Regions from separate parts of the Homo sapiens genome. Here region 2 is linked to region 1. Evidence: fine-mapped expression QTL. Tissue or cell type: whole blood. Region 1 holds a variant in brackets; the other region holds the start of a gene. All regions are shown on one strand. Distances are between the middles of the regions.

Evidence for each region. PIP is the estimated chance that this variant, and not a neighbour inherited with it, causes the effect.
Region 2: it holds the start of SESN2, and the variant in region 1 is fine-mapped to the expression of SESN2 in whole blood (TOPMed, PIP 0.97).

Annotation. Positions count from the first base shown.
Region 1 is chr1:28,318,083-28,323,230 of GRCh38, forward strand. No RefSeq gene overlaps it. Among named protein-coding and RNA genes, the nearest start is that of MED18, 8.4 kb to the right of the region's middle. The variant T/A (reference allele first, on the strand shown) is at 2,588.
Region 2 is chr1:28,256,566-28,261,713 of GRCh38, forward strand. It overlaps SESN2 (sestrin 2), which reads left to right and starts at 2,953. Exons shown (of 10, transcript NM_031459.5): 1 at 2,953-3,372. The coding sequence starts at 3,283. RefSeq lists enhancers at 2,524-2,703, 2,696-3,544 and silencers at 2,814-3,023, 3,804-3,863.

The DNA of each region.
Region 1 (5,148 bases):
TGACTTTCTAATTTCTCAAAATGGAAAAAGTATTTTTTTTGTACATTTTAGAGTTTTCTTCTAAAATATTAGAATTTCTAGGCCTGCCACAGTGGCTTATGCCTGTAATCCTAACACTTTGGGAGGACAAGGCGCGAGGATCGCTTGAGCTTGTGAGTTTGAGACCAGCCTGGGCAACATGGTGAAACCCCATCTCTACCAAAAATAGAAAAAATTAGCCAGGCATGGTGGTGGGTGCCTGTGTCCCCAGCTACTTGGTATTTTGTTTTGTTTTTGTTTTTTGTTTTTTTTGGGTTTTTTTTTTAGATGGATTCTCACTCTGTCACCCAGGCTGGAGTACAGTGGCGTGATCTCAGCTCACTGCAACCTCTGCCTCCCAGGTTTGAACGATTCTCCTGCCTCAACCTCCCGAGTAGCTGGGATTACAGGCACGCACCACCATGCCCAGCTAATTTTTGTACTTTTAGTAGAAACAGGGTTTCACCGTGTTGGCCAGGCTGATCTCGAACACCTGACCTCAGGTGATCTACCCACCTCGGCCTCCCAAAGTGCTGGGATTACAGGCGTGTGAGCCACCTCGCCCAGCCATTCACAGCTACTTGGGAGTCTTCAGTGGCAGGATCACTTGAGCCCGGAAGGTGGAGGTTGCAGTGCCCAGTGCACTCCAGCCTGGGTGACAGAGTGAGATCCCATTTCAAAATAAATAATTAATAAAATAAAATACATTTGAATTTCTTACAATGAGCACATAATGCTCTTGTAACCAGAAAAAAAACTATAAATGTTTTTCATTATTTTAATCAATTTTATTGAGATACATTTACATTTACATACAATTAAAATGCATCTGGGTAGGCCGGGCGCAGTGGCTCACACCTGTAATTCCAGCACTTTGGGAGGCCGAAGCAGGTGGACCACCTGAGGTCAGGAGTTCAAGACCAGCCTAGGCAAAATGGCAAAACCCTGTCTCTACTAAAAATACAAAAATTAGCTGTGCATGGTGGTGGGTACCTGTAATCCCAGCTACTTGGGAGGCTGAAGCAGGAGAATCGCTTCAACCCGGGAAGCGGAGGTTGCAGTGAGCCGAGATCATGCCATTGCACTCCAGCCTGGGTGACAAGAGCAAAACTCCATCTCAAAACAAATAAATAAAATAAAATAAAATGTATCTATTTAAATGTACATCTTGATGAGTGTTGACAAATATACACACTTGAGCACCTGACATCACAATCAAAATATAAATATTTCCATTTTTCCAGAAAGGTCCCTTATGTCTCCTTGCAATGAGTCCTCCCTACTTCCTGCCCTAGACAAGCACGATTTTATTTCTCTCACTGTAGATTAGTTTTATCTCTTCTAGAATATCACATAGATGGAATCATAAATTACATATTCTTTTGTGTCTGACTTCTTTCACTTAGAATATTGTTATTATTATTTTAGAGAAAGGGTCTTGCTCCATCGCCCAGGCTGGAGTGCAGTGGCACAATCATAGCGCACTGCAGCCTCAAACTCCTGGGCTCAAGGGATCCTCCTGCTTCAGCCTCCAGAATGTCTGAGACTATGGTTGCATGCCACCACGCTCAGTTTAGATTAATCTATCTTCTTATGTACATCAGTAGTTTTTTTCTATTGCTGAGTAGTATTCCATTGTAGAAATAAATCACAATTTGTTTATCCACTTGTGTGTGGACATTTTGTTTGTTTCAAGTTTTTTTTTTTTTTTTTTCTTTTTTTTTTTTGAGATGGAGTCTCTCTCTGTCACCCAGGCTGGAGTGCAGTGGCACCATCTCGGCTCACTGCAACCTCTGCCTCCTGGGTTCAGCAATTCTCCTGCCTCAGCGTCCCGAGCAGCTGGGACTACAGGCATGTGCCATCACACCCAGCTAATTTTTGTATTTTTAGTAGAGACAGGGTTTCACCATATTGGTCAGGCTGGTCTTGAACTCCTGACCTCGTGATCCACCCGCCTTGGCCTCCCAGAGTGCTGGGATTACAGCCATGAGCCACTGCGCAGGCTTTTTTTTTTTTTTTTTGAGAGAGTTTCTCTCTTATTGTCCAGGCAGGAGTGCAATGGCGCGATTTCAGCTCACTGCAACCTCCACCTCCTGGGTTCAAGCGATTCTCCTGCCTCAGCCTCCTGAGTATCTGGGATTACAGGCATGCACCACCACGCCCTGCTAATTTTGTATTTTTAGGAGAGACGGGGTTTCTCCATGTTGGTCAGGCTGGTCTTGAACTCCCGACCTCAAGTGATCGGCCCGCCTCGGCCTCCCAAATTGCTGGGATTACAGACATGAGCCACCGCGCCTGGCCATTTTTTTTTCATTTAAAAGGAAAAAAAGGTTATTTTCTTTTACTCTTTTTAAGTAACCCACACTCATCAAAAATTTGGAAGATAGGCTGGGCGTGGTGGCTCACTCCCAGTTACTTGGGAGGTTGAGGCGAGAGGATTGCTCGAGCCTGGGAGATTGATGCTTCAGTGAGCTATGATCTTGCCACTGCACTCCAGCCTGGGTGACAGAGTGAGACATTGTCTCGAAAAAAAAAAAAAAAAAAAAAGGCAGGGGAATCGCTTGAACCC[T/A]GGAAGTGGAGGTTACAGTGAGCTGAGATTGCGCCACTGCACTCCATCCTGGGTGACACAGTGAGACTCCATCTCAAAAAAAAAATAAAAGGAAAACAGAGACAAGTGGAGATAAAATAATCTCTGGTCCCATTAAACAAAGTTAAACAAAGGCAATTATTGTTAGTATTAGAGTGCTATGTTTTCTTCTCCTGTGTAAAGATGTTTTAAGGACTCTATATAATTAAAATCACACTGTACATTTGTAACTGGCTTGAGTAGTTAATATTATATCATAAATATTTTCCACCTTCTTTCTTTTGTAACCATTTTTAATATTATTTAATATTTTATCACTAGAATGTGGACTCTCTCAGGGCAGGGGTTTAGGTTGTCCCAGTTATTCTTTATATTCCCAAAGTTCAGCATGGTGCCTCTCCTACCGCAGGCACATAGTAAGTGCTGACTGTATTGTGTGCCACAATGTGCTTGCTATGCCCATATGGAGAATATGCCAACTCTCCTTACAATGTTCTTTTCACTAATTCTCTTTTTTTTTTTTTTTTTTGAGACAGTCTGGCTCTGTCACCCAGGCTGGAGTGCAGTGGAAGCATCTCAGCTCACTATAGCCTTGACCTCCTGGGCTCAAATGACACTCCCATCTCAGCCTCCCAAGTAGCTGGAATTACAGGCGAGGGCTACCATGTCTGGCTAATTTTTAATTTTTTGTAGAGATGGGGTCTCCCTACGTTGCCTAGGCTGGTCTTGAACTACTGGGCTCAAGTGATCCACCTGCCTCGGTCTCCCAAAGTGCTGGAATTACAGGTATGATCCACCATGTCCAGGACCCATCTTAAGTCCTAAGCACTAGTGTGTTAACCTCTGCCCTTCTGCTTCTCCATGAAGTCTTTTTGGGCTTTCTCCTCTCCTCTGGGTTGTACAAAGAGTCTCCTCCAGAAAACATTTGAGTTGATGGCATAAATAATGGCATAAAACCATTTGACCCAAGGAAGGGGGTAATTGTGATGAGATCTTAGGGGACCAGAAACAAACTCTTTTACTTCCACATAGATTATACAGCAGACTTGCAATTCTGGCAGCTGTGAGATGGAGAGAATACCACCTGCTTCTGAGAGCTAGTATGAGGAGGAAATGAATTATACAGATTCAGCTGAGCATGGTGGCTCACACCTGTAATCCCAGCACTTTGGGAGGCTGAGGCAGGTGGATCACCTGAGGTCTGGAGTTCGAGACCAGCCTGGCCAATTTGGTGAAACCCCGTCTCTACTACAAATACAAAAATTAGCTGAGTGTGGTGGTGCACGCTCGTAATCCCAGCTATTTGGGAGGCGGAGGCAGGAGAATCACTTGAACCTGGTGGGTGGAGGTTGCAGTGAGCCGAGATCATGCCACTGCACATCCACCTGGGTGACAGAGTAAGACTCCATCTCAAAAAAAAAAAAAAAAAATACAGATTCACAGAAAGTGCTTACCACAGAGCCTGGCACCCAGTAATCACACACTCAAGGGGAGCTGTCCAGGAAATTTGAGACCCAGTGGGTTAATTATCGGTTAATTATCTTCAGACTAAAACCAACACTGATTTCCCCAGACAGCCCGGGAGGGGAGAAACCCAAACAGACAGTTACAGTTCAGCTAAAACAGAGCTAATCTTTAATCTTTTATGGATACATGTAATACATTAACTATTATAGCTTATCCCCTCAAGGCACCTCAACACCTGGTCAACCAGAGGCTAGAGTTGGGTTGGCTGGGCTAAGAGGAAGGGAGCAAGTAAATAGGCCAATTACCCTTCTGCAACAGACTTTCTTAGGGCCCCGCCTTGAGATTAAGAGAATTAAATGGCTAATGCTGCCTGTCATTCAGCCAGTGGGGTGGGGAGGTGAATTTCTTGAGTCAGCACCCAATGAAGAACACTAGGCACAAAATTATATGAGGTGTTTTACCTGTCTCTCAGCAAACTAAACTCCTTAAGAATGGTGTCATTTCTTATTTGTCATTGGGTGTTTGCTGATGGTCATTACTATTAATAATAATGCTGTAGTTGTCATAATAGGAAAAAAATCCAAAGGCATAGAATTACTAAGGCTAAGTATCTATGAAATCATAAAGTTCGACTACTGCATTTTCTCAACTCTAAGATGCATTTTGTGTCTGGGTTTATCGGGCTTCAATTTATAACAGATATATATATATATATATATACACACACACACACATAGAGAGAGAGTGTTTATCAATCGACTGAAACTCTGTTATTAAATCAATACTATGACTTAGAGTGGACAGTGTCTAGGAATCAAGGAAATATGATAATTCAATCTCTCCCACTCGGAACAAGAATTCTTTCTTTTCTTTTTTTTTGAGATAGAGTCTCGCTCTGTTGCCCAGGCTGGAGTGCAGTGGCACCACCTTGGCTCACTGCAACCTCTGCCTCCCAGGTTCAAGCGATTCTCCTCCCTCAGCATCCTGAATAGCTCGCATTACAGGTATGTGCCACCATGCCCAGCTAATTTTTCTGTTTTTAGTAGAGATGGGGTTTCGCCATGTTGGCCAGGCTG
Region 2 (5,148 bases), 62 kb before region 1:
GAAGGCATTGAATGATGGATACTATTTCAATGGGTAGAGATTTGCAAGAAGAGTACTGAAAGAAAGATTTGAAGGCCAAACAAGAAACATGGATGTTGCAGGTGGTAAGAATGGGAGGGTAAATTAGGTGCATCTTGGCAAACCTTGAATGTTAAGATAGGAGTTTGATTTTTTTTTTTTTTTTTTTTGAGACAGGGTTTCGCTCTGACACCCAGATCGTGCAGTGGCACGATCTCAGCTCACTGCAACCTCTGCCTCCCGGGTTCAAGCGATTCTCCTGCCTCAGCTTTTCGAGTAGTTGGGACTACAGGCGTGCACCACCACGCTTGGCTAATTTTTGTATATTTAGTAGAGATGGGGTTTCACGATGTTGGCCAGGATGATCTTGAACTCCTGACCTCAGGTGATCTGCCTGCCTTTGCCTCCCAAAGTGCTGGGATCACAGGCGTGAGCCACCATGCCCACCCAAGGAGTTTGATCTTAATTCTGTAGCTGATGAAATACCAGTGAAGCCTTTTGATCTGGACTTTGACATTACATAGTAAATTTTTTTTTTTTTTTGAGACAGAATCTCACTCTGTCACCCAGGCTAGAGTGCAGTGGCACGATCTCGGCTCACTGCAAGCTCTGCCTCCTGGGTTCACGCCATTCTCCTGCCTCAGCCTCCCAAGTAGCTGGGACTACAGGCACCCGCCACCACGCCTGGCTAATTTTTTGTATTTTTAGTAGAGACGGGGTTTCACCATGTTAGCCAGGATGGTCTTGATCTGACCTCGTGATCCGCCCACCTCGGCCTCCCAAAGTGCTGGGATTACAGGCGTGAGCCACCACGCCTGGCCACATAGTAAATTTTTTAAATGAAAGCTGAAGCTGACACAGGGTAGTTTAGAGAGGAAGTTGATGCAAAGGAAGATTCCGTGACCAAGGGCATATGATTGTCAGGACATTTTGCTAGGTGACATAGAGCAGGAGATGGATGTCAAGATGTAGACCCTGCCAGCCAGGCGCGGTGGCTCATGCCTATAATGCCAGCACTTTGGGAGGCTGAGGCGGGCAGAGCACAAGGTCAGGAGTTCGAGACCAGCCTGATCAACATGGTGAAACCCTGTCTCCACTAAAAATACAAAAATTAGCCGGGTGTGGTGGCACTTGCCTGTAATCCCAGCTACTCAGGAGGCTGAGGCAGGAGAATTGCTTGAACCTGGGAGGCAGAGGTTGCAGTGAGCCAAGATCGGGCCACTGCACTCCAGCCTGGGAGACAGAGTGCGACTCTGTTTAAAAAAAAAAAAAAAAAAAAAAAAAAGATGTTGACCCTGCCCTCAAGGAGTTTACAATTAAAAAGATCAGATAAGCCAGACTCAGTGGTGCACACCTGTAACCCCAGTGATTGATTTGGGGGGCTGAGGAGGGAATATCGCTTGAGCCCAGGAATTTGAAGCTGCAGCGTGCTATGATCATGCCACTGTACTCCAGTCTGGGTGACAGAGCTAGACCCCATCTCTAAAAAACAATACTAATAAAAAGAAAAAAGGGTCAGATAAAACATGTACATAGAAAATTACAATACAAGGCAGAATGTGGCTGGACATGGTGGCTCATGCCTATAATCCTAGCACTTTGGGAGGCTGAGGTGAGAGAATCGCTTGAGCTCAGGAGTTTGAGACCAGCCTGGGCAACATATTGAGACCCTGTCTCTATTTACTAAAAAACAAAAAACAAAAACAAAAAAACAGAAAACAAAAAAACAAAAAACAAAAAAAACTAGGTAGAATGTGATACATGTGAAAAGAGATCCAGCTCAAGTGCCTTGGGAGCTCAGGGGAGGGTGAGATTAATCTCTTTTTCCCAAGAATCTGGAGGCAGGAAACCAAGTCGGTTTCATCTTTGGAATTGTAAGCTTAGACTTAGAAGTCTCAGAGGGGGACTTGGGGGTCTTATCCACCCTCACCCCTGGCAGGATTCCCTGTCTAGAATAAACAATAACTTTAAAATGGAAACAAAAAAAGGAGCTCTGAAGGAAAACTGTGAAGGAAGAGGCTCCGTTTGAAATGAATAGAAAATGAATTTAGCTTGGAGGTGCTGAGGTGTTGGTAGAGGCAACTTTCTGGCAAGAGGCGAGTTGAAGGCCAGGAAGTGAATGAGATCAGGGAGAGTGTCTGGAGGGAAGAGGGGCAAAAACAAACTGGGGAAGCACCCACGTTTTAGGAAGTGGGTGGTGAAAGAGGAGTCAGAGAAGGCCAGAGGGAGAGGTGAGCAAAGATCCAGCAGAACACCTTGTTACAAAGTTTCGAGGAGGGTGGGAGGGGTGGAAGCCAGGACGGGTAGCAGAAGGAAGAAAACTTCCAGCAATAGGGATTGAGGTTCCACACGAAGTTACCAATGACATTTCAAGGAATGAAGGCTTTTCCTGAGGCTCCACAAATAAGGTGAATTCCCTGTGTCTCGCATCTTTGGAGCTTCCCCGAGGCCAGGGGGAGCAGGGTTGTGCCCTCTGACCTCTAAATATCTGGGGTTCAGTTCTATAATTAGCAGCACCGGATAGGACGCGAGCCAAACCTCTCTTAACCCTAGCCAGTCCCTCCAGGAACTGAAAAGATGAAGAATTCATTTAGGAGATTTCACACTCGGCTGTTTGGCCTAGCCCAGTGAAGTCCCTTTTCATCACGCAACCCTAATGACTCTTAGGGCTGTCACTGCCGTCTGGTGTTGCCAGGGATCTGACTAAACCGTCTTGCAAAAGTTTGCAGCATTCACCCGAGGCGGACTACAACTCCCAGAATTCCGGGCGCTCCCCGGTGCTGATTGGCGGAGCCCGTGACTCCAGGGGGCGGAGTTTCCCCCGCCTCCCCGGGGAAACAGACCTCTGATTGGCTGGACCGCCGGGCTTTTGTGTCCCCGCCCTCCCCCGGGGACCGCAGCGGGCTGAACTGCTGGTGTCAGAGCCCGGCGAGCGCTGGCAGTTCCGCGGCGGGGATGCTGAGGAGCGCTGGGTCCGGGAGCAGCCCTGGCCCCTGCGGACTTCCGAGGCCGTGAAAACCCCTGCGCTGCGGCCCTTCCCAGGCCCCCGAGGCCGTTCGCCGTTCCCGAAGCCCGACTGGGGGAAGAGTCCAGCACCAAAGCGGCCGTTCTCGGATTCCGGAGCGTTCTGGAGCCCCGAGAGACGCCCCGGGGTTCTAGAAGCTCCCCGGCGGCGCCCAGTCCCGGCTTCATTCGGGCGTCCCTCCGAAACCCACTCGGGTGCACGGGTCGTCGGCGAGCCGCGACCGGGTCCTGGCGCGCACCATGATCGTGGCGGACTCCGAGTGCCGCGCAGAGCTCAAGGACTACCTGCGGTTCGCCCCGGGCGGCGTCGGCGACTCGGGCCCCGGAGAGGTAAGCGGCGGCCGCGCGACGCCCCTCTTCCCTGGAACCCCGAACCGCGTCTGAGCCTCAGGCTGTCCGGAGCTGAGTCGGTGTGTCCTGGGCTCGGGGAGGGAAAGCCGAGCGCGTAACCCGGGACCCGGGTTGCATCAACTGGCAGCCGCGGCCCTCGGCACCCCTCCCCCACTCTGTCTCCCCTCTCCCTCCTTCTCCCCCTCCCTCTCCCCCTCCTCCCTCCCTCTCCCCCTCTCCCTCACCGCCCCACCCCAGGGCCGCGGATCCTTCCTCGGCTCCCTCGGACTCCTGGCCAATGAGGGAGAAGCCTTCTGGAGGCTCTCCGAGCTTTGGGCTCCTGAGCGTCTTCAAGTCCAGGCAAATCCCGGCCGGAGCGGCCAGACCACTCCTCCTCCCCGCCCCCTTCCGCGGAGTCCCTTCCTCTTCGCGGGGGCCGGCGGGCAGAGGACCCTTCCTGGGGTGCCTCCCGGCTCCTGTCCCCCAGCGCGGGGCGTAGGCACCTGGGACTGGCCAGTGAAAGTCGACCTCATCCTATGTCCACCGCACTCCTGCTTTGGAGGGAGAGCGCAGGGGCTCTGGGGGCTTGGCGGGCCGCCCGGTACGCGGCGGCGGCAGCCAAAGCTGGGGGGAGAGGGGACAACCCTGGTCGCGGCTTCCGAAGCCAAGCGCGGGTTAGGCTGCGCCCTGCTAAGTAAGTGGTCTGAAGGCCCAGAAGTTTGTTTTCCAGAAATTCCTCCCCCACCCTCCCTTCGCGCCGCTCCCCTCCACCCCCCCGCATTCGCATCCCGGCATAGCCCGCAGGGGCTTTGCAGGGAGACCGGGAATTAGGCTGGACCTAACCAGACTGACAGTTCGCACTCCCCCACCACTACCAGCAGCAGCGATAATGGACATCTTATCATTTATTATGCACCTACTAGATACCAGGCTCTGAGTTTTTTTCGCCTTTAACCTAAGTCCTCAGGACTAAACCAGCAATACAAGCTACGCTATAGCCCCATTTTACAGGAAGAACATTGAGGCCCACGATGGGCTCAGAAAGAGGCTTTCTTCATTAACCCCACTGAATATCTTGTTCTTTGGCCTTATGATTTCGGAGATTGCACGGCACTAGGAGCTTCTAGTTGCTTTAGTTTACAGGCCTAGAGTGTGGTGGAAGTTGTATTCTGGACCTGGGATTTGGTGGAGTGCTATGACCCCAGGAAAATCCCTGCTTTTCTCTTAGTAACGTGGTTTCTGGGGATCCTACCTCCGTCGGTGTATAGTTTGTGCCCTGGTTTTTGTTAGCTTGCTTACCCTTCTCTGCCGTGATTTAGGAGCGCCATGTGGAGGAATGGCTCTTCTCCTGCAGCTTCTCAGCTGTGTGACTTCTTTGGAAAGATGGAAATAATGTTACTATTGAGAACACCTGAACACTAGAGAGCAAGAGTGCTGGGTTCATGTCCCAGCCCTCCTGCTAACTTGCAGTGTGTGGCTTAGCCAGTAATCACTTCTCTGATCTGTGGTTTCTTCCCATGGGGATTTTACAGTATCTCTAAGGGATTGTTGGGAGAATTAACTCAGAATACAAGCAAAAGCTGAAGCACTGTGACTGGAACATAGTAACTGCGTGATACTTGCTTGCTATTATCAGAACGTGGCCATGGCACGCACAGCTTTCTCCAGAGTGTCTCACAAGGGGGTGCCTGAGCCTGTTCCTGAGATCAGACACTGTACACCCCTCTCTGGGTCAGTGCCTGGTCTAGGGAGAAAAGGCTTTGAGGGAGGGATCTT